Regions from separate parts of the Homo sapiens genome. Here all the other regions are linked to region 3. The links come from fine-mapping of genetic effects on plasma protein levels. A gene starts in region 3. Each other region holds a variant in brackets. All regions are shown on one strand. Distances are from middle to middle.

What was found. PIP is the posterior inclusion probability: the model's chance that the variant is causal. The UK Biobank Pharma Proteomics Project read protein levels with antibody pairs (Olink). The fine-mapping took linkage between variants from a reference panel, not from the people measured, so its PIPs are less certain.
Region 1: its variant is fine-mapped to the plasma level of the SPINK5 protein (UK Biobank, PIP 0.98).
Region 2: its variant is fine-mapped to the plasma level of the SPINK5 protein (UK Biobank, PIP above 0.99). The variant lies in the coding sequence of SPINK5. If it changes the protein, the assay may bind it differently, which can mimic a change of level.

Annotation. Positions count from the first base shown.
Region 1 is chr5:148,027,934-148,038,614 of GRCh38, reverse strand. No RefSeq gene overlaps it. Among named protein-coding and RNA genes, the nearest start is that of SPINK5, 31 kb to the left of the region's middle. The variant T/A (reference allele first, on the strand shown) is at 5,290.
Region 2 is chr5:148,125,944-148,131,057 of GRCh38, reverse strand. It overlaps SPINK5 (serine peptidase inhibitor Kazal type 5), which reads right to left. Exons shown (of 33, transcript NM_006846.4): 30 at 3,979-4,075. Among named protein-coding and RNA genes, the nearest start is that of SPINK14, 40 kb to the left of the region's middle. The variant T/C (reference allele first, on the strand shown) is at 4,028.
Region 3 is chr5:148,055,469-148,065,174 of GRCh38, reverse strand. It overlaps SPINK5 (serine peptidase inhibitor Kazal type 5), which reads right to left and starts at 1,195. Exons shown (of 33, transcript NM_006846.4): 1 at 1,076-1,195. The coding sequence starts at 1,130.

The sequences.
Region 1 (10,681 bases), 27 kb after region 3:
AAACACTTAAAAACCATATTTCTTGATCATATGCCAAGCTTACACTGAAAAAAAAAGAAAGATGGGTTCAAGCATTCCAACATACTGCTAGAAAATTCAGGGAATTTCAGAATATACTACCTATAGCCTTTTCAAGGAAAATAAAGAAAAAGCCAACCAGAAAAACTATGAGTTTCTATATGTCCCCTCATGTGAAATGAAATTGATATTGGCTGTTGCTGCCAGCTGCTGTCACATTGCCCAGCCTCCATCACTCTCAAATCTGGCAGTGTTGTCTGATCTATATCCCTATAACATTTATTAGCAAGGAAGGCAAGAACATCAGCTTTCCAATTAGATCAGAATCTTAAGTTCTGAATCCACTCTTTACCAACCATGAAAGCATTAGCAAATTACTTAAAATTTCTGAGCCTCAAGTGAGATTAAATTATTTCATAAAGTTATTATATTAAATATTTGAAAATTCTTAGGCTTTCATAGGTATTCAGTAAGTGGTAACTATTAATAGTTCCTTCCAAACACGAATCCTACTTTGTGACTTCTATCCACAAAAATCCTCCAGTGACTCCTTCCCGCCTTAGAATCAAGATCTTTCTATTCATCTCTGCTTTTCAAAGTCCAGATAATTTTGCTATTGCTTACTGTCTAAATATTTGTAAACCTATGTGATTCTTTGTCTTTGACACCATCTTGGCTTATGAATCTGTCTTCTTATTCCTTCATTTACCACTTTGGGAAGAGTAAAGATTTTAAAGTTAGACAGAGACAAACTGTGTTTGAATACAGACTCTACCACTTCATACCAATGGGATCTTTTCACTTAATCTAGTCCCCCTTTTAAAAGTGATTGTAATTCCAGGATTGCCATAATATCTCCAGTGCTTATAGCTAAGGGCCCAGAATATAGTAGGCACTCAGGAGTTGGTAGTGATGGTGATAATGAGGATGATGGTTTTTCTGGCTAAGCCACACATATTCTGATAATGAAGACACCTGAACAGAAACACAGAGAGTAGAGAAAGTTTTTCCCTTTCAGTATTTCAATCAAATCCTAACTAAATCAATACTGACTTATTCAGCTTGTGTGTATTTTTTCCTAACTACTAGAGTTTCTAATACCTGAACCACATAAACTATCTTACACTGTTTTCTTTGTGTAAATGAAACATTCACCAACCAGATGTCTTGTAGGTTGTCAGTAGCAGATAATGATTAAAAGCACAGATTCTGCAGGTAAATGACTAGCTTTGCATCTGTCACTGACTGTGTAAACTTGAACAAGTTATTTTACCTCTCCTTACCTCAGTTTACAGATACATAAATTCTGGATATTAATGATAGCTATGTCATAATTAAATAATTAAAGTTAAGTATATATACACATATGTATGTATAAATAAGTATACTTATTGAGAGTTTATGATTGCCAGGAACCATTCTAAGTATTATATACATATATATACACATGTATATAAGTATATATAAGTATATACATGTGTATATATATGTATACATGTATATACTTATATATACATGTATACATATAAGTATATACATGTACATATATAAGTATATACATGTGTATATATGTATACATGTATATACATATATACTTATATACATGTGTATATATATGTATACATGTGTGTATATGCATGTATATATGTATATAGTGCTTAGAATGGTTCCTGGCAATTATAAACTCTCAATATTATTATTGTTATTATTATTATTATTTCATTTCTTGTTCTCTCTGATAATCCTCTTCCCGACTCCCTCCCAAAAGATTCAAAATTAGCCAAAGAGAAGGCCCGCAGTCCTTAATGACCAGAAAGAGGATTCAATTTGGATTCACAAGGCTTAAAAAGAAAAACACTAGCAATGCTGGGAGAGTTTGTGGAGATGAGCATTGTTTATATGGTGCAGGGAAAGTGTGTATTGGTGCAGCCTTTTGGAAGAGCAATATGGAGGGTCCATAAATATCTTAAATGGTCATATAGTTAATCACTAACTGTGTAAACTTGAATAAGTTATTTTGCCTCTTCTTGCCTCTGTTTACAGATATATAAATTCTGGATATTGACGATAGCTATGTCATAATTAAATAATTAAAATTAAGTATATATACACAAACATATATATATGTATAAATAAAACAAAATAACAACAGAAACTTAAACATACACCCAAAGAAAAATGGCAAAATTCAGCATAGGATATCTATCATGCAGCTTTTTAGACTTCAGCCTATCAACCCTCCAGTTCTAACATTCCATTACCACAGCCTAGCTTAGAAGATGTCTCCAGCTTCAATACCATCTCCAAAAACGTAGGATTCTTATGAGCCCTTTCTGTTTAATCTCTCAGTAAGTCCTATTGACTCTTCTTCTACAACATGAATCTCTTCACAGAAACCGACACCACCATCTCTCACACGGACTGCTGCTCTGGCCTCCTCATTAGCTTCCTTGCCACTATCTGGATTTTCACATAGCAGCCTGACATGCCTTTTAAAAAATAAATGAGATTAAGTAAACAACCAGCCTAGAGACTTCTGATGGTTTTCCATCAAACTTCACATGTGGCATTAGGTCCACACTCCCAGCTGTGGCCTACAAGTTGCAAATAAATTTTTCTAATGTCAACTTGTACTATTGTTTCTTCCACTCACTTATAATATTCTGCTATGATCAGTCCCCTTCCTATCTCTCAACTGTGCCAAGCTCACTTCCACTTTAGCATCTTATAGCAGGTGCTTCTTGTGCCTGGAAAGCCCCTGCCATTGATTTGAGAGTGGCTGGTTCCTTTTTATTATACACAGCTCAACTTAAGATATTATTTTTTCAGAGAGACTTTTCTTTACAACCAAATCTAAAGCAGATTGTCCTCTACTACATCCCCAAGACCAGTTGCTTTTTAATGAAATGGCTTATTTTCATTTCTTTATACAATAATTACTGTCTGAAGTCTTCTTTTTGTTAACCTATTTACTTCTCTACTATTTGTGTTTCCCACCAGAATAGAAGCTCCACAAAGCAAGGACCTCACTTGAGAAAGAATTGCATGTTCTCTCTCGGTTTTTACTTCATGAAAATATCATTTTAAACTTATTGTTATCAGTATTATTGCCTATGTTATTATTATTTTATTGGCTGAGTTGAGAACTTATATTTAGTTTTTCCTACTTCAGAGCAAAAATAAAAGCATTCTTTTCATAGGTATTATAAACCATAAATATAACTTCTCCCACTCATTTTTCTTATTTTTCCATTTAAGAAATAGTAAATCTATTAATTTTCTCCTGATGATCTCAATTTTGCCTCAAATCTCATTACATCTCCAGCCATGTTTTCATAAATTACAATGTTGATAATAATTAAGATTTGTTCTGGTCATTTAACCTTAGTTCATTTAAGTATCCTCAGTAATCTGAAGAGGTAGCATGATACCTATTTTGTGAATAATATCTAACATTTATTGACTAATTATTTTGTGCCAGGCACTGTTAAAAGTATTCTTAATTTATCTTTGCAACAACCCATTTTACAGATCAGGAAACCAATGAATAGAGAAATAAATTAGCTTGTCTGAGATTTTACACATTGTTAATGGCAACTTTGGGATTCAAATCCAATTCATCTGAATCCAGACTCATTTTCTTAACTTCCGTACTATCTTGCTTTCCAATATGGAAAAACTTCCTTTGGGAGAGTTTGAAGGATTTGAGAGTAAGTGGCAGAACAGAGTTTGAACCAGAAACACATATAGTCAGTTCTTCATGTTTATGGGGTTCCTCATTTGTGGATTCAACCAAGCACAGATAAAAAATATTTGAAAAAGAAATTGCATATATGTACTGAAAATGTACAAACTTTTTTCTTGTTGTTATTCTCAAAGCCATACAGTATAACAACTATTTACATAGCATTCACATAGTATTAGGTATTATAAATAATCTAGGGAGGATTTAAAGTATACAGGAAGAAATGCCTAAGTTATATGCAAATACTTCACCATTTTAAATGAGGGACGTGAGCATCTGCAGATTTTTATATGGGGGAGGCCCTGGAGCCAATCCCCCAAAGATACCAATGAACAACTGTTCTCTAAACCAGTGATTCACAAACTTTTTGGCACCAGGGACCGGTTTTGTGGAAGACAATTTTTCTGTGGACAAGGGTTGGGGGGGGGAATGGTTTTGGATGATTCAAGTGTATTACGTTTATCATTAGATTCTCATAAGGGGCATGCAACCTAGGTCCTTTGCATGTACAGTTCACAATAGCGTTCATGCTCCTATGAGAATCTAATGACTGATCTGACAGGAGGCAGAGCTCAGCTTCACTTGCTTAAACCCTGCTCACCCTCTGCTGTGCAGCCCAGTTCCTAGCAGGCCATGGGCCAATACCAGTCTGTGGCCCCGGGGGTTGGGGATCACTGCTCAAAAGTGTTACACTATTTAGTTTATTCTAAAGAGATTTAGTGCCACAATCAAGGTCATGAAACTTCTCTTGACTAAGGAAGTCATTAGAACCCAAGGCTTCCATCCTCCAGTCACTGCTCATTCTCTTTTAACTGCCCCAGTTCATTCTCTATGGAAAGTTTCCCTCTTCACAGGATTGATTAAAATCCTGTGGCTGTTCACTACTCACTGCTTACACTCACTTTTGTCCCAGCAAATGTGAACACACAGGACTGTCCCAGAAAGGGAACTTCAGTGAGGAATTGCAGGAGCACAAGATAACAGATTTTGCTGAGAAGCTGCAGCACTAACAGCTGTCCTTGACTGAGCAGTACTCAAGTTCAAGGCACTATGAACACTTTGCATGCATTAACTCATTCAGTTCTTTATAACAACACTGTGAGGTAGCTATCATTACCCTCATTTCCAGGTGAGGAAACAGACTCAGTGAATTTAAGCAACTTGCCCACGGTTTCACAGATAGAAGTGAAGCACCAGGATTTGAATATGAGTCTGTCTGATCCCATAGATGACCCCTAAACACTACACATAGAGAGATTACCAAGACATAATTAGGCAGAAGCTTTGCATAAAGTCTTCTTTTAAGTCTCTTTATCAATGACTTTTAGAAATGTGATATAGACAATTCAATTAATATGTCACATGGGAAGAATGCTAGATGTGGGAGGGCTCAGAAATCAGTAAGGTCATCCTGAGCTACAAAAGTTTCTGACCTTACATTACAGAGGTGCATAAAATGTTCCACGCCCAGACATGCAATGTCATCCTCTCACTGGATGACACATTCAAAGCTGTCATTCCCAATA[T/A]TGTCATGGTATCATGGCAACTGAATCAGGTCAGAATTCCTGCATGTTAATTATTGCAAAACAGTGGAAAGAGCCTCTCATTCTCAGAATTCAAAAAATCTTCAGAGTTCATCTAGCCCAATCCCTTTCATTGTATAGGTTAAGAAACTGAAGTCCTACTGGCATTAAAACACTAGGTAGCAACTTGAATGACTCTCAGCGACATTATATGGAGTGAAAGAAGCCAGACACAAAAGATTATATGGCATATAATTCCCTTTATAAGAACTTCCAGACAGACAAAACAAACCTATAGTAATAGAAGTTCAAACAGCAATGTCTGTGTCTGGGGGGAAGAGGCAATGACCATAATGAGGCACAAAGAAAACTTTGAGGCAATAGAAATGTTTTACACTTGGATCTAAATGGCGATTATACAGATACATGTTTACATAAATATTATCAAATTGTATACTTAAGATCTGCAAATTTTAATGTATATAGAGCATGCATTAATGAAAAGAAAAAAAAAAACCTGCCTATATTCCTGTCTGAATTGCATTCTTTATTGAATAATACCTAGAGATGCTTTTCTGGTAGATTTAGAATTACGTTTAGAATTGGAGACAAGGAAAATTGAGGTACCGAGCAGAGAGCAAGTTTTCTCAAGATCATATAATATGGAAAGAGCTAGAATTAGATTTTACATTTCCATGCTGTAATGCCTTGGAAATATCTGGTATTATGAATAAGTTTCGATGGAGGCCCCTGTGATAAAGTGCATAAAGCAAAGTAAAACCAATATTGAGTTTGAAGCCAGATAATCTGTACTCAAAGATCAGTAATACCATTATTTGTATAAATTACAATGCCTGGCACATGGCAGGCATTCAATGGATTTTTAAGGGGGTGAATAAGGTAGATAGAATTAAATATAAATTATTTATCTTTTCTAAATCTAGGAATGATAAAAATGAAAAACATTTGAATATTTTAAATCAGTAATCCTCAAAATACATTCAATAAAAAATGAGATACTTACAATTGTACCAATAGAAAAAAGCTTTCTAGGCTGGGTGCAGTGTTTCCTGCCTATAATTCCAGCACTTTGGGAGGCTGAGGTGGGTGGATCAATTGAGACCTAGAGTTCAAGACCAGCCTGGCCAACGTGGCAAAACCCCATCTCTAATAAAAATACAGAAATCAGCCAGATGTGGTGGCACATGTCGGTAATCCCAACTACTCAGGAGGCTAAGGCAAGAGAATCGCTTAAACCCGGGAGGTGGAGGTTGCAGTGAGCCAAGATCGCGCCACTGCACTCCAGCCTGGGCGACAGAGCAAGACCTTGTCTCAGGAAAAAAAAAAAAAAAAGAAAAAAGCTTTCTAGAGTCCAATGTGTTTGCCAATTTTAGTTTAAGCAAATTAAGTAACTTTGCTTGTCTGCAGAACTTCTGTTTAAGTGCTAAAAAATATTCCTAGACCAAAGAGATTCAGCTAAATGAAATTCCTGCAGGAAAATAAAGTTTGTAGCATTTTCTAAAACCATTTGATCACCAAATCCTCCTAGATTAGAATGTTTACTAAAATCTCACAAAGCAGAAACATAGAATATATAGAATGTTTCTATATACTTTGGCAACTATGCTGCATTAATAAAATTTTAGTTTGTTAGTCTCACTGGGTTAATAAATCATAAGTTGCCCCCTGAAAGGGGGCATTTCATTCTTCATTGGAATTTTTCCAAAGACAGGTTTCAAGAAGTATAAATTACATATTGCAGCAATAAATAAAAGTTCATTAATTTATGAAAAGATTTTTGTTGAGGAATACAAATCTTTTTGCAGGTCTCAGTGATCATCTCAACATCTTGCTATAAATAGAAAGGAAGAGATAGCTCTTTTTCAAGGATGTGGGAAAGCATCAAGTTCGGTCAAGGATACCCGGACTAAAAATAAATGAAATGAGATGAGATTCCACTTTTACTAACTCCCAAACTCAAATGTAAACATTATTTTTATTATTAACATGTTTTAAAGATGTGAGGCTCTAAAAAAATAGTTAAATATATTTTGAGGTTTATCAAATGGAGGAGTGAAATATATAACAATGGCACAAAGGATGGAAGAAAGTGAAAGTATACTACTGTAAGATTATTACATACTAAATGGAATGGTATAATATTTAATAGTAGACTGTACAAGTTAAAGACATATATTGTAAACACTAAAATAAAACTTACAAATTTTTAAAAGATACATAACTATTAAGCCAATAGTGGGGATAAAATGGAATCATTAAAAAGAAAATCCAACGACAGCAGGAAAGGGACCAAAAAAAGGCAAAAAAAATTATAAAATGTATGGTAAGATAATAGATCCAAATCCAGTATTATGAATATTTACCTTCAATGTAACTGGTCTAAATACTTCACTTAGGCAGTATTTACTGAATAAAAAGCAGAAATCGACTTAATAAAAAAGCAAAGACTCAACTATATAATATCTATAGCCAATCCACTTTAAACATAAAAACATAGATTAAATGTAAAAAGATGGAAAATATGTACAATGTAAATTTTAATCAAAAGAAAGCTGCAGTGGCTATATTGATGTTAGACAAAATAGATTTCAGAACCAGAAATAGTACCAGGGGTAAAGAAGAATATTTATGCATATATTTATGCAATATAAAAGAAGACATTTATGCAGCCAAAAAACACATGAAAAAATGCTCATCATCACCGGCCATCAGGGAAATGCAAATCAAAACCACAATGAGATAACCTCTCACACCAGTTAGAATGGCGATCATTAAAAAGTCAGGAAACAACAGGTGCTGGAGAGGATGTGGAGCAATAGGAACACTTTTACACTGTTGGTGGGACTGTAAACTAGTTCAACCATTGTGGAAGACAGTGTGGCGACTCCTCAGGAATCTAGAACTAGAAATACCATTTGACCCAGCCATCCCATTACTGGGTATATACCCAAAGGATTATAAATCATGCTGCTATAAGGACACATGCACACGTATGTTTATAGCGGCACTATTCACGATAACAAAGACTTGGAACCAACCTAAATGTCCAACAACGATAGACTGGATTAAGAAAATGTGGCACATATACACCATGGAATACTATGCAGCCATAAAAAATGATGAGTTCATGTCCTTTGTAGGGACATGGATGAAACTGGAAACCATCATTCTCAGCAAACTATCACAAGGACAGAAAAACAAACACTGCATGTTCTCACTCATAGGTGGGAATTGAACAATGAGAACACATGGACACAGGAAGGGGAACATCACACACCGGGGACTGTTGTGGGGTGGGGGGAGGGGGGAGGGATAGCATTAGGAGATATACCTAATGCTAAATGTCGAGTTAATGGGTAAAATGCAGCACACCAACATGGTGCATGTACACATATGTAACAAACCTGCACGTTGTGCACATGTACCCTAAAACTTAAAGTATAAAAATGATAAAATTAAAAAAAAGAAACACGAAATAAAATGAGAATACAATGAAAAAAAAGAAAAAGAAATTAAGTCACAGAGAAATTATAATGTTAAATTTGTTTGCATCTAACAACAGTATCAAATAAATGAAGCAAAACTTGATAAAACTGAAAAAGAAATAGACAAATCCCAATTAGACTTGGAGATTTTAACAGCCATTTCTTAGTCATAAATAGAACAAGTAAAGGAAAATCAGAAAAGCTACAGAAGACTTTACCACTATTACCAACTTGGCCGTTACATTTTTTACAAGTGCACATGGAACAACATTTAGATAGATCATATTATGTGCTGTAAAATAAATCTGAACAAATTCGAAAGGATTTCGTTGCACAAAGCATTTTTCTCTGACCACAAAAACCATTAAATTGATAATCTTTGAAAAGCAGAACTTGATCTCCCTCAGTTTTTGAAGGCCTACACCCAACAGTCTCTCAATCAAAAGTCCAGAAAGACTATAATACAATCCAAGTGTAGAATGGGTTTCACTGAAACTGTTTAGTTTCAGATAACTTCTTGTTTTTTTTTTGAGACAGAGTTTCATTCTTGTTGCCCAGGCTGGAGTGCAATAGCATGATCTTGGCTCATGGCAACCTCCTCCTCCCAGATTCAAGTGATTCTACTACCTCAGCCTCCCAAGTAGCTGGCATTACAGGCATGCACCGCCATGCTCGGCTAATTTTTCTTTTTGTATTTAGTAGAGACAGAGTTTCACCATGTTAGTCAGGCTGGTCTCGAACTCCTGACCTCAGGTGATCCACCCGCCTCGGCCTCCCAAAATGCTGGGATCGCAGGCGTGCGCCATCGTGCCCGGCCCAGTTTTAGATAATTTAACCCCTAATTACATTTATGTGATTAGGCTCTCATCCTGTCTAAAAGAAAAAACTGAAATGGAGGAATAATTCAACAGTACCGGTGGAAAATGGTATCATCTAGATAGAGACTTTATAATTACATCATATACTATGTCCAAAATACTATTTTACAAAATACTAGACAAGCAACATGGTAACAAAATAAAACCAATTAGCAAGAGAAAAATATGCGAAAGGAGCAGAAGTAAAAATAATCTAGATATTGTAAGTAGTAGAAACAGAATTTTGGTTCACTGTGATTAATACATTTGTTATTTGAAAGAAAACATGAACAAAATAAATGAAAGCATGAGGAACTTAAACACATAAATAGAGGATTTAAAATTAATCAAATGACATTCCAGAACTTAAAAAGATAACACATGAAGTTACGAAACTGCTGGACACAATAGAATGAAGAATTGGTAAACTGGAAGATGGCACTATAGGGAATTTCCTAATTCTGATTTTTAGAAAAGATATGTACAAAAAAAAAGAGAGAGAGAAATTGTTGCATTCAATAGTGAAATGCTAGCGCTTGCCCCAAAAGGTCAGAAATACAAAAAGAGCATCAACGGCTGCTATTTCTATGCATCATTATAAAGTAAGTTCTAACCATTCCAATAAGTCAAGAAAAGGTTACAATGTTTGGAAAGGAGTGTGTAAAACTGCCTTTTTTTTTTTCACAGATGACATAATTGTGGACATACAACATCAAATAAAAAGATAAACTATTGCAATCAATAAATCAATTCATCAAGGTCACTGGACCCAGGTCAACAACAAAAAACAATTGTATCTCTATATACTAGCAATAAATAATTGAAAAATAAGATAAAATAGGAACTATTTACAGCAGCATTTTTAGAAAATCACACATTTATGAGTAAATCTTAAGAAAGTAGTGCAAGTACCATTGCACTACTGAGAGACATTAAAATCTGAATAAGTAAAGAAGTATTCCATGTTTTGGGGTCAAAAAAATTAAATATTCAATATATCAATTCTCTCAAAACTTATCTATAAGTACAATA
Region 2 (5,114 bases), 68 kb before region 3:
CAAGGTAAGTAAACAAAGAAACAAGGAGTAGCAAAGCAATAAGAAAGCAAATATCCTTTATAATATGTGACACAATTACCTGCCCATAAGAAGAAATCTAGAATGATAGGCATGCCAGAAATAATATTCGCCTTTTTAAGTGAAGGTATTGGTTATATACAGCCTAGAAAGGAAAGACTCAGAGGTAAATACTCATAAATTGCATGAGTTTTTGAGTCCTAGCTCTACCACTAACTAGAGAAGTAACTTATCTAACTTTTCTCAGCCTTAATTTTCTCACCAGAAAATCATAAATAATAGTAGTCCTTACTTTATATTACTGCTTGAAGGGATTAAAACAGATAATGCATGTAAGTTCATGCTTAACGCAGTATCTGTCACATACTAAGTGTTCAGTAAATTTTAGTTGTTAGTATGTTTTCCACGGTAAAAAACATATGTATATTTTCCATGTAAAAGAAGAAACATATTTGCTCTTCGTAGTGTTTTGGAAGTATGAGTTTAATAATTAATGATAATTCCAAGACCTTGATTAGTTTTTTAAAAAGGCAAAAAGTAGAGCCAAAATATAAAAAAAGTATTCAAAAGCAAATAGGATGATGGAAGACTTAAATCCAATGGTATCAGTAATTACATAGAATATTAAGAAGTAAGTACTCCAGTTAAAAGACAGAAATTATCCAACTGGAAGAACAAAAAGAATCAACTATATAATATTTATAAGAAATATATTTATAAGTAAAAGGATGAGTTCTAAATAACTCATGACTCAAAGTAATCATAGAATTTAGAAATGAAATGAATCACAAAGAAAATACAACCTATCAAATCCCAGCAGCCAAAGCAGTAATTTGGGGGAAAATTATAACTTTAATACATATATTAGAAAAGAAAGAGGTTCTAAAATGGATGATCTAAACTTTCATCTGAAGGAGCTAGCCAATGATGAGCATAGAAAATTTTTTAAAATAAGTAATAAAGAGGAGAAATTGATGAAATAGAAAATAGAACAAAGCCAAAAGTTAGCTGCTTGAAAAGAATAAGTTGATAAGCTATTTGCAAAATTGACCAGAGTCAAGAAAACATATATTACCAATATTAGAGATAACAGGTCATCACTATATGAGCTGTAGATACTAAAAGAATAATTTAGAAATGTTATAAATAACTACATGCCAAAAAATTTGACAACATAGATGAAATTAATAAATTCCTTGAAAACTACTTACTGAAAACAGATACAAAGACGACATAGAAAATTTAATAGTATTATATCTGCTAATACTCATTTTGGAGGAGTCAAGCAGTATTTGTGTACTTGTTCCTTTGTTTTGATAAATGATTCAAACACCTAAATGAATTGCTTTAGATTGTGGTGAGTTCCATATTGGTACAAATATTCACAGAGAATTTAGATAAGTAACTTATATGAAACCCTGGCAAAGGTTAGACTCAACCAGGTATATCAATTGTATTTTTTCAGGTAACTGGTGCTATAATGTTCAAAAGGTACTACAATGTTCCTTACTCTCTCTCTCTCTTCATTTTTTTAACATAGTACATCAACTCAAAAAATTCTGTTGACTCCACCTTCAAAACAGACCCAGTATCTTACCACCTCTCAAGAGCTCCACCACTACTAACATGGTATAAACCAGCATCATCTCTTCTGTAGACAACTGCAATAGCTAACTAGCTGTCCAGCCCTTGCCTCCCTGCAGTGTTTTCAATAGGTATCAGGCAAAGTTATTCCTTTAAAACATAAATCAAATCATATTAGTCTTCTCAGAACCTTCATTCAGAATATTAGGCAAAGTCTTTAAAATTGTCTACAAAACCCTTTATAACATGGCCTCCCATTAGCTTCCTGACTTCCTCTTCTACAGCTGAGGTAGCTCTATTTCAACAACACTAAACGCTTTGCTATGTTTTCTCTCTGGAATATGTTCTCCTCAGATATACCTACAGAATCAATACCCTTAGGTCTTGATGTAAATGTCACCTTCTGAGAGAGTTATTCTCTGTATATGTCACTTAAAATTGTATCCCCTCCCCTCCCCATCTCAGAATTTACTGTACCATTTTTTTCTGCCTTATTTCCTCCTTGGCATTATTTTTTCATTTATTCATATTATTTATTGTATCTGCTTTTCCAATATACTATGAACTTCATGTAGTGAGCGCTATCTGTTTTGTTTATGGCTATTAACCTAGCATACGTAAATAATGCCTGGAGGCCGGGCGCGGTGGCTCACGCCTATAATCCCAGCACTTTGGGAGGCCGAGGCGGGCGGATCACGAGGTCAGGAGATCGAGACCATCCTGGCTAACACAGTGAAACCCCGTCTCTACTAAAAATACAAAAAATTAGCGTGGTGGCGGGCACCTGTAGTCCCAGCTACTCGGGAGGCTGAGGCAGGAGAATGGCGTGAACTGCGGAGGCGGAGCTTGCAGTGAGCCGAGATCGCGCCACTGCACTCCGGCCTGGGCGAAAGAGCAAGACTCCCTCTCAGAAAATAAATAAATAAATAAATAAGTAAATAAATAATGCCTGGAAAAATAGCAGGTGCTCAGTAAGTATTTGTAGACTGACAAAAGGACTGCCGGCTTGATGAAAAAAATGAATAATGAAAGATTTATTTCTCCAAAAGAAATAGCTCCAAAGCAGACTGTAGCTTATGAGGGAGAATGAGGGGGCTACTGGTCTGCTGATGATATCTTATTTCTTGCTGCTATCACAGGTATGATCACTTTGTGATATTTCATTTAGCTATTTACTTGCATATGTACATTTCTTCTATGTAACTATTATACTTTAGTATTTAAAAAAAAAAACATATTTTGTTAATAGCTCTTCTCCATGCCTTCGGATCCCTGATGTGGAGCTCAATTTACCAGAAATATGTAATTAATGCATATTTCATGTATGTAACTCATCTATTACCCTAGTTGAATTGGGTGAATAATGAAGTAAAATTCATGTTTGATACCTTTCTTTCTCCTTTTCTGGGTCATCAGCCTAGGTGCTAAAATCTTCCTTTTAGGGCCCAATCTGAGAATCTGCTTGATGTTCTCATATCCTCTTTGCTCCTTTCTACTCCTCATCTTGTGAAGGCTCTACAAAGTAAATCTTATCATGCTAATGTAGACTAATACTTACATTACTGGTGACCATCAGCTACGAGAGAGAGGAAGAGAGAAGGGTGGGGTCCTGTTCTGTCACCCAGGCTGGAGTGCAGTGGCACTATCACGGCTCATGGTAGCCTCGACCACCTGGGCTCAAGCCATCCTTCCACCTCAGCCTCCCAAGTAGCTGGAACTACAGGCACAAGGCACCATGCCCAGCTAATTTTTTTTTTTGTAAGTTTTCTAGAGACAGAGTTTCACCATGTTGCCCACAGTGGTCTCAAACTCCTGGGGCCAAGGGATCTGCCCGCTTGGCCTCCCACAGTGCTGGGGTTATAGTCATGAGCCACCGCACCCAGCTCAGCCTATATTTTAAACAAGAAGCTTTAGCTACTGCGAATTGCTAATTGGCGGAAATTTATACCTGTGAGCATGCTTGGCATAGAGTTCCAGGATGTAGAAACAGATTTGGTTGGAGGAGGGAAATAAGCGGAAGCTAGGTGAGGAAGCTAAGAATACCAAGAGGTATGCTAAAATTACAGAATTGAGGCACCTGACTATGTATTTTACCATATGTGAAATTAGTCACAATTATTCCACACACACATTGTAAATTTCAAAATGTACTAAATTGAAGCAGGGCAAATAATCTCAAAGGGCACAGGATAAGGCACTAATGAGAAATCCCAGAACTCTCACCAAGCATAAACTGCATATAGTCCTCAAAGGACTTCAGGCTGCACTGAATCAGCAAACCTCAGACCCTTCTATGAAAATAGCAAATAGCAACAGGTCAAAAAAAATCAAGAAAATTAAATTGATAAGTAGCTTTTCAGAAATAGTCCTCCTTACCAGAGAACTGAAAGAGTCTGGGCTGTCTTCCTCTTGAGAAGCTCTAACA[T/C]GGGATGGCTTTTCTTGAAGCTTTGCCCTTTCCAAAGCTTCTGTTAGACTAGAGAAGAAAATAAAAAATAATTTAAAATAAGAAACAGTTCCTATAACTTCCAGTGAGAAGTTAAGCAATCCTCATAAAATGTGACAGAGGCCAGGCATGGTAGTTCACGCCTGTAACCCCAGCATTTTGGAAGGCCCAGGCTGGCGAATCACCTGAGGTCAGGAGTTGGAGACCAGCCTGGCCAACATGGTGAAACTCCATCTCTACTAAAAATACAAAAATTAGCTGGGCATGGTGGTGCACACCTATCATCCCAGCTACTCGAAAGGCTGAGGCAGGAGAATCTCTTGAACCCAGGAGGCAGAGGTTGCAGTGAACTGAGATCGCACCATTGCACTCCAACCTGGGCAACAGAGTGAGACTCTGTCTCAATAAATAAATAAATAAATAAATAAATAAATAAATAAAACAGAATCACAGAACATTGAGATAGTGACCAGGATGACATATTAAGAAAAGTACACAATTAGGAGCTGGTTTAGAACTTTCATCACTTAACAGATGACAAGTGGGTTAATGTTCTGAAGTTTTGATTTTCTAGAACATAAAATGGGAGTAGTATTTGGTAATTCCCCCTCAAAGAACACTCACTATGAAAAGCTAAAGAAATTTGATTATTGTTGTGTTCACAGTGTGCTTTACAACCATCATCATCATCATCATCATCATCATTTATAATGTCCATTGGTCTCCATTTCTATTTGCTTTTTAGAATAACCTAGAAACTCTTTCTAAAAAACAAATTCCATAGCCCCAAGATTCTGATATAATATATTTTGGGGTGTAAAAATTTGTATTTATTTTTAAAGGCATCTCAATTGAGTCTGATCTAGTTGTGGAATAAAGATCTTGAAGAATTTCTTCTAATTATGATGCTGAAAGTTGAAAACAAATTGTTTAATGACACAGCTAGTATACATCTTGGTTAGAACTTACATACGGAATTTTTGTCTCCAAGTCTCAGTGTTCTTTCTACTATATCAGGTGTTCTCAATTTGAGGGCTTTAATTCTAAAGACTTATTTTTAAAATCCCAT
Region 3 (9,706 bases):
GACCAGGAGATTAGTATATATACTCACAAAGGTCTAATCACTCAGAAAGTTACAATTACTTTGGAAAATAATACTCATGTGAATTCTAACCCCATCAAAATAGCTTATCTTCAAAAGGTCCTTTCGGAGTAATAAATGCCAGCCTCCCTTTTAAAATTACAATATAACATACACACAAAATACTATACCAATTATAATTTTGAAACTATATTATAGTTGAAACTATAATATAGCATTACATTTATAGGATATATACATAAAATTTAATTTTCTGAATTCTGGCAGCTCTACCTCCTTATTACAGCTGCAAAAGTTAGAGATCTGACAGAAGGTAAGATTAAGGTCACAGGCTATTATACTCTCTCATTAACATAGGCTCTTTTGTACCTACACACCTATTTTAGGAAAATGGGCATTATTTGTATATGATTTCAGACTATCTATGAGTTTCTCTTTTTAAAAATTTTAATGTTTCAGAGCAACGTAAGTCTAGGCAATTTGTGTTCTCTTAGGGTTAAATAGCAAATATAAAAATCTACCTTCCAGCTCCCACAAAAGTCCCTCACTCTTTGGGAGAAATGCTTTCAACCCATTTAGCATTTGAAAACACAAGACTAAAATAAGCTAGAAGATACCACTGCTTTAAAATAAGAACAGATGATTGAATTTTAAAAAATATTTCATTTATACCTATAACATTAAAATACATATATTATTTACAATTAAGTTTTAAATGTCTATTACATATATAAGAATATGCATTATGAATTGATACATTTAGCAAGAGGAAGATGAAGAAGAATCTATTCAGTTTTCTGAATTAATAAAGAATTAATGGAAGAATTTCTCATGGTTAGAAAATTCAGATTATCTCAAACTACTTGCCATTTCTAAAGATAACAACATAATTATAAAGCCACATATATAAATCTTCAGAACTCTGTGTCTGGCAAGACATTTCAGGATTATACATGCATACGTAAACATTTTTTGGCAGGAGTAGGGGGAGAAAAGTCCCTTCCCCAGGGCTTTGAGATGTGTGGCAAGAGGCTTAGATTACACACAAATTGCTCACCTTGTATGAGGCAAAGAGCCAAGGGCAGAAGCACTGACACTGTGGCTATCTTCATGTTGAAGACGATGCAAGTCGCCTACAGGTCCACTCCATGCATTGCTCAGCTGGTGCAGTATGACTGAACTCGGGGCGATGCAGTTTACTTTTATAAAGCACTGGTGACACCCACATAAAACCAGTTGTTCAAGGTCATGGGACTTATATACCACACCACTTTAGCTTCCATCCTTTAGGATCCTGTCAGGGTGTCAGGTTTGAACAGAGAATATCTATTTCTAAAGTAGGAATGTTCTTTCATGGTACCTCCCCCAGAACGCAATTGATGGAGTCCACAGACCCTACTCAAAGTTGAATATTCTATAATCCTATATAATAACCGAATTCCTCAGAAATACCAGATATACTACCTCGTAGACAAACATGTTTCTGACTGGACTCCCTTCATAAGTGGGAGAGGAGAGGAAAGGAAGACAGATTGGTTGTCCTACCAGTCAGGTATAGATTTAAAGATTTCCACATCCAGAGAAATCCAGGGTTCCTGTTCTGAAGTGTCTGAGTTCAGTGTCACAGACTCATATATATGTTAGAGTTGAACGACCCTAAAAGATAACCTGGCAAAATTCTAATGTTGAATATATAGGGAGGCAGGAACTCAGAGGAGCAATGACTTTCTCATAAGCAGACAGTTTAGTTGGAGCAGGCAGAGGAGGCATCCAGCACTTGCAAGCAGACCACACATATAACATTCTTTCCTCTCTGTACACTGCTTCATCCTTAGACATTAGAAAAGGCAGGAACGTTGGAAAAATAAAACTTGTATGTAACTACTTTTAAAACTTCTCAATCTGCAGGATATTTTATATTCTGAAGCCTTATTTTATATCCTAGCCAAACATCATAATCATAAACATTGGAGACTCAGTTTAACTTTCCATAGCCTATGATTACCCATATTACCGTTTGAAAAATTTGGCTCAATCAGTTTTCTCTAAATCATATTTCTTCCTGTATCATCCCATTATTTAGTCTCCCAAAAAGAAAAGAAGAAAAAAGTTGTTAACAATTATAAATGTGTAAATGTAACATTTTTCTAGAGAAAGTTTCTTCTCTTTAGTTGCTTCTTTCATCCTACAAGTAACACCTTTTTTCTACCAGCTTATTTTGCCCTAATAGCTTAAGAAAGCACCTGAAGAAACATGTGAAGATGACTGAAACCAGAGCCAAATTGTTTCATTCCAGTACTTCTCAAGATATTCACATCCACAGAAGAAAAGTTCGAGACTTTATCCAATTAAAGGCCTTTTTATGATGGTTCCAGAAAACTGATCAAAGTTGCCCAACTTAGGGAGTATGCCAATATTATGAGATTTATCACAGTGAGATAATACGTCCTTTCTTTTTTCTCTCATGAAATAATTTATTTCCTATAAAAATATAATCACTGGGCCAGGCACAGTGTATCACGCCTGTAATCCCAGCACTTTGGGAGGCCAAGGCTGGCGGATCATGAGGTCAGGAGATCGAGACCATCCTGGCCAAGATGGTGAAACCCCATCTCTATTAAAATACAAAAATTAGATGGGCTTGGTGGTACGCACCTGTAGTCCCAGCTACTCTGGAGGCTGAGGCAGGGGAATTGCTTGAACCCGGGAGGCGGAGGGTGTGTGAGTTGAGATGGCGCCACTGCACTCCAGCCTCAGCGACAGAGCAAAACTCCATCAAAAAAAAAAAAGATATACACACACACACACACACACACACACACACACACATACATATATATACACACACATATATATATATATATAAAATCATTGGTTTCAAGGTCTGCACTATTGTTGTAGCTTGGCTCCTTTCCAATGGAATAGTAAAATTAGTGACCACGGAAAGCAAGTTCAAATTCCATTATTGTTACAGGTTAGAAAATCAAAGTCCATCATAGCTTAATGGAAAGAGAATGAGACAGGGTTTCAGAAATCTGTTTCTATTCTATGTAGTCTTTTCAACTATGTAGGGATAGAAATGAACCCAGCTTTGAAGCAAGCTAGAAATGGGTCCAAATCTTGAATTGTTAGCCATGTTGCCTTGGACAAGTCACTTATTTTCTCTAAGCCTCAGTTTCCTAATATGTAAAATAAAAATAATAACACGTACATTGTACTAGTGCTAAGAGGTTTAGAGATAAATCATATATATAATGCGTGTGTGTTTGTGTGTGTGTGAGAGAGAGAGGTGCTTAGAACAATTATCAAGTTTATGTGATAAGCTTGATAGTTAATGATAGCTGGTCTTGCATTTTTACATAATTATAATAACGTGGTTGTACTAGATAATTTCTAAGATACCAAGAAAAGTAAACATCTGTTGACTGTGGATTTCACCAATAGATTTATATTTACTCAGCATAGAAAAACTACCCCAACACAATTTGAGGTGAAATTAAACTATAACGATATATGTTCTCTTTTTCCCTTTTAATTGTATTTTAAACCATAATGCCTAAACAAATCGAAACATCACCTGTTAAAACTTAACGAAAACCATTGCTCTGTTTCAATCAGCATTGATTTCTTGTCTCTTTCTCTAAAAGCCTCTTCTAAATATTCACATATCAATACTAATTTTTTATCTTTCATCTGCCCTGTCAGACCATACGAAATGTGTCCCAACCATATATTCTGTTATTGACGGTAAAAGAGTTTGATGCCTTAAAATGGAATCAATGACTGTGTATTATGCTCTAGTGACCCCTAGCCTAGCCCAAATGGAGAATATTCCCAGGAGTGGAAGTGGTGCTAGGGTGGAACAGAAGAACCAAAAGATGATTGCCTGTCTTAGGAATCTCTACTATGAGGAAACATTGAAGACATTGGTTTCCTTCTTACTGGAAAAGAGCTCCTCAGAGATGCCAGCCTTTTCTGAAATGATGAATAAAAAGTTTGAAACTGATATCTTTTCCAAATGGAGAAAGTAGTAAAAAGAAGATTCAGTGAGCACCCCCAAAATTGGAAGTACTCATCAGCTGGCTCATTTCATTAGGGCTTCTTCTCCATTTCATTTTAGGAATGTTGTAAAGCCAGAGGTGATTCATCACATGCTCTGTTAATTACTCCTCATTCCTGAAAATCACCATGAATATTACATTTAAATGAATGGGATTGAAGGTTTGGAGAACTCAGGTTTGGGTCAGAGTTAGGTTATCAAGGTATTCTTCTAACTCAAAATATCATCCTTGTTTTTAACTCTTTCAATTATTCATCAAACATGTAGAAACTTTTTTCCTCTCATTAGAAATGAGTGGGCTTAGATAATAAAAACTATGAATTTTACAACCTTACGCATTTATGAGGTTGGCAGAATCTGAAGGATACTGATACAGGGGGAGGAAATGAGAAAATTATAAAGATTGTTGTAGATCAGTAATGTTACTACAAACAAAGGTTATTTCCAAAATATAAAGTTACCATATCATTCCTAAAGTCTTCTGTTTTTCTACACAGAGGGAGCCTTGATGACGATAATAGTTAATAAATAACTATAGTCTTTTATGATTAGATCACCTTCCACAGCTTTCAAAACAACCTGCCATTCATTAGCTCTTTTGATTTGTTTATGCAGTGTTGTGAGGCAGCCAATTAGGTGTTATTATCTTTTCTTTACCAGCCAAAATTGGTGTCATAAAAGAAACCTGCAGTAGGAACTAGCTGGGATGGTCATCTCAGCCTTGACACTTTCTTACATTTTATACCTTTAATTTCTCTGAGTTTCCCCACGGCCATCTCACAGACTTTTATACCGTTCAAAGAGAATCCAGATCGAGACCATCCTGGCTAACATGGTGAAACCCCGTCTCCACTAAAAATCCGAAAACATAAAAATTAGCCGGGCGTGGCAGAGGGCGCCTGTAGTCCCAGCTACTCCGGAGGCTGAGGCAGGAGAATGGCGTGAACCCGGGAGGCGGAGCTTGCAGTGAGCCGAGATCGCGCCACTTCACTCCAGCCTGGGAGACAGCGAGACTCCATCTCAAAAAAAAAAAGAGAATCCAGACGTTACAGTGCTTTAAACTAGATACAGCCCTATGCATGCACACACACACAGACACACATACACAATCACTTGGGCAAAAAGAGGTATGTTGTGACCATGAGTAAAATTTATATATTCTAATATATCTTAAAAGATGAAATAATTTCTTTTTTATTTTTTTATTTTCTTTTCTATAATTCTAATATTTTCCCCCATCAATCTAACATGTCTATATTCTCCTGTTTGTTTGTTTGTTTTGAGGCGGAATCTCACTCTGTCCCCCAGGCTGGAGTGTAGTGGTGCAATTTCGGCTTACTGCAAGCTCCGCCTCCAGCGTTCATGCCATTCTCCTGCCTCAGCCTCCCGGAATAGCTGGGACTACAGGCGCCCACCACCGTGCCTGGCTAATTTTTTTTTTTTTTTTTTTTTTTTTGTATTTTTAGGAGAGACAGGGTTTCACCGTGTTAGCCAGGATGGTCTCGTATCTCCTGAACTCGTGATCCACCCGCCTTGGCCTTCCAAACTGCTGGGATTACAGGCATGAGCCACCGCGCCCGGCCTATATTCTCCTTTGTAAAAGACACTAACTGGAAAACAGCCTTTACTCATCTTCTTATCTGGTAATGTTGCATTACCAACTAACTTCACTCTCTCTGTAGGAATTCCTTTCTGTTTGTCTGGAAAGACTAAGAAACTAGAGATAAGCCTCTCATTTTATCTAATAATAGAATGGGATGGGCATTGTTTGTTTACTGAGTATATAGACCCTGCTATTTACAGACATAATTACTGCTTTTATTAGATTAGGATTAAGAAGACAGGAATTTCAATGTCTAATTTTTAATTGTATTAATATTTTCATATGGGTTATATTTTATTTTAGAAACAACAATCAGCTTCTCCCTATAGCTGATATTACTTGAACCCCTGACCCATGGCCCCACACTGTTTATCACTCAAAAATTTAGTGCATTTTAAAGTCTCCTAGGATTTATCCTGACAATAGAAAACAGAGGTTTGAGGAGCTACAGTCTTTCAATAAATCATAACAAATTAATCCTGAAGTACCTAAGAGTCTACCGGCCGGATGTGGTGGCTCACGCCTGTAATCCCAGCACTTTGGGAGGCCGAGATGGGCGGATCACGAGGTCAGGAGATTGAGACCACCCTGGCTAACACGGTGAAACCCCGTCTCTACTAAAAATACAAAAAAATTAGCCAGGCACGGTGGCGGGTGTCTTTAGCCCCAGCTACACGGGAGGCTGAGGCAGGAGAATGGCGTGAACCTGGGAGGCGGAGCTTGCAGTCAGCTGAGATCACTTCACTGCACTCCCGCCTGGGCGACAGAGCAAGACTCTTTCTCAAAAAAAAAAAAAAAAGTCTACCTAATTTTAGCAAAAAAGCATTGCAAATTTTATATGTGTAATATGTGTGTGTGTGTGTGTGTGTGTTTACAGTAGGGAAGAATGAAACTGTTAGATTTATAGCAAAGTTAGAAAAAGATTATCTTTACAAAATAATTTGTAGGCCGGGCACCGTGGCTCACTCCTGTAATCCCAGCACTTTGGGAGGCCGAGGCAGGCAGATCACGAGGTCAGGAGATCGAGACCATCCTGCCTAACATGGTGAAACCCCGTCTCTACTAAAAGAAAAACCCGTCTCTACTAACAATAATAAAATTAGCCAGGCGTGGTGGCGGGCACCTGTAGTCCCAGCTACTCAGGAGGCTGAGGCAGGAGAATGGCATGAACCCAGGAGGCGGAGCTTGCAGTGAGCCAAGATCACGCCACTGCACTCCAGCCTGGGTGACAGAGAAAGACTCCAACTCAAAAAAAAAAAAAATTGTAAAGAAATAAAATTTGCTAACACATTTCATGCACTTAGGTACAACAATAAATATAAAGATTAAGTATCATTTTATTCTTACAGGTAAAGCAACTGAGGTTTGGTGAGATTCTATAACTTTTCCAAGGTCATACAGCTTGTAAGCAGTGATCTTGCAAATGATCACAGTCAATGTAATAAAGGCATTCAAACTCCAGAGCCCAGCTTCTTAAACACTACACACCGTAGTAACCACATTGCCTACAACTGTAACTAATGTGTCTCAGGTACTCAATGTTAAGAGCTAAACTCTGTCTGCCCAAAATTTATATGTTGAAGCCTTAAACCCCACTACTTCAGGGTGTGCCTATATTTGGAGATAAGTAAAAGTGGTGGTTAAGTTAAAATGAGGTTATAAGGTTAGGCCTTAGACCAAACTGATTGATGTCCTTACTAGAAGAGGAAATTTGGACACACAAAAGAGACACTAGTGATGCACACACAGAGGAAAAACCACATGAGGACACAGTGGGAACTTGCCCATTACAAACCAAGAAGGAAGCTTCAGAGGAAACCAAACTTGCTGTCACTTTGATCTTGAAATTCTAGCCTCCAGAAATGTGAAAATATAATAAATTTATGTTGTTTAAGTCACCCAGTCTGTGGTATTTTGTGGCGGCAGCCATAGCAAACAATACACTCACCGTATGTATTGACCCAGTCACATGCAAACTGTGTAAAAATGTATAGACACAGTTATACGGTTGAAAATACAGTCTTATGTAGGCTCCTTTCTCTTTAAGTAACCAGTACATTAAACTTATGATCCTGTAGAATAGTGTTAAAGAGAAACAGAGCTGAATATTTATTAAAAGTGGCAAGACTCACTTTATCTGGGCTATTCCAATAGAGAAAAGAAACTCCAGTAGAAACCAAGCTCAATTCTGCTAAAACCAGAGGCAGGATGCTTTTTTAATGCTGAGGTGTGCTGTATTAGTTCATTTTCATGCTGCTGATAAAGACATACCCGACACTGGGAAATTTACAAAAGAAAGAGGTGTATTGGATTCATAGTTCCACGTGGCTGGGGAGGCCTCACAATCATGGTGGAAGGCAAGGAGGAGCAAGTCACATCTTTGTAGCAGTCAAAGAGAGATTGTGCAGAGAAACTCCCATTTTTAAAACAATCAGATCTCAAGAGACTCATTCATTATCATGAGAACAGCACAGAAAAGACCCACCTCCATGATTCAGTCATCTCCCACTAGGTCTCTCCCACAACACATGAGAATTATGGGAGCTACAAGATGAGATTTGTGTGGGAACACAGAGCCAAACTACATCATTCTACCCCTGGCTCCTCCCAAATCTCATATCTTCACATTTCAAACCTGATCATGCCTTCCCAACAGTGCCTCAAAGTCTCAACTCATTTCAGCATTAACTTAAAAGTCCACACTCTGAGACAAGGCAAGTCTCTTCCACCTATGATCCTGTAAAATCAAAAGCAAGTTAGTTACTTTCTAGATACAATGGGGGTACAGCCATTGGGTCAATACAGCTGTTCCAAATGGGAGATATTGGCCAAAACAAAGGGGCTACAGATGCCATGCAAGTCGAAAATTCAGGAAGGCAGTCAAATCTTAAAGTTCCAAAATGATATATTTTGAATCTATGTCTCATATCCAGGTCATGCTGATGCAAGAGGTGGGTTCCCATGGTCTTGGGCAACTCCACCTCTGTGGCTTTGCAGGGTACCGCCTCCCTCCCAGCTGCCTTCACAGGCTGGCACTGAGTGTTTGTGGCTTTCTCAGGCATATGGTGCAAGCTACCTGTGGATCTGCTATTCTGGGTTCTGGAGGATGAAGGCTCTCTTCTAACAGCTCCACCAAGTGGTGCCCAGTAGGGACTCTGTGTGGGGGCTCCTACTCCACATTTCTCTTCTGTACTGCCCTAGCAGAGGTTCTCCATGAGGACCTCACCCCTACAGAAAACTTCTGCCTGGACATCCAGGCATTTCCATATATCTGAGATCTAGGCTGAGGTTTTCAAACCTCAGTTCTTGACTTCTGTGCACTCACAGGCTCAACACCATGTGGAAGCTGTCAAGGCTTCAGGCTTGCACCCTCGGAAGCCATAGCCCAAGCCATGGCCCCCTTCAGCCACTGGAGTGTCTTCAACGCAGGGCTGCACACAGCAGAGGGACCCTAAGCCTGGCCTAGAGAACCATTTTTTCCTCCTAAACCTCTGGGCATGTAATGGGAGGGGCTGCCACAAAGGTCTCTGATATCTCTTGGAGACATTTTCCCATTGTCTTGGGGATTAACATCAGGCTCCTTGCTACTTATGCAAATTTATGCAACTGGCTTGAATTTCTCCTCAGAAAATGGATTTTCTTTTTTTTTATCACACTGTCAGGCTGCAAATTTTCCAAACTTTTATGTTCTGCTTCCCTTAAAAAGCTGAATGCCTTTAAGAGCACCCAAGTTATCTCTTGAATGCTCTGCTGCTTAGAAATTTCTTCTGCCAGATACCCTAAATCATCTCTCTGAAGTTTAAAGTTCCACAAATCTCTAGGGCAGGGGCAAAATGCCACCAGTCTCTTTGTTAAAACATAAGAAGAGTCATCTTTGCCCCAGTTCCCAACAAGTTCCTCATCTCCATCTGAGACCACCTCAGCCTGAACCTTATCATTCACATCACTATTAGCATTTTTGTCAAGGCCATTTAACAAGTCTCTAGGGAATTCCAAACTTTCCCACATTTTCTTGTCTTCTTCTG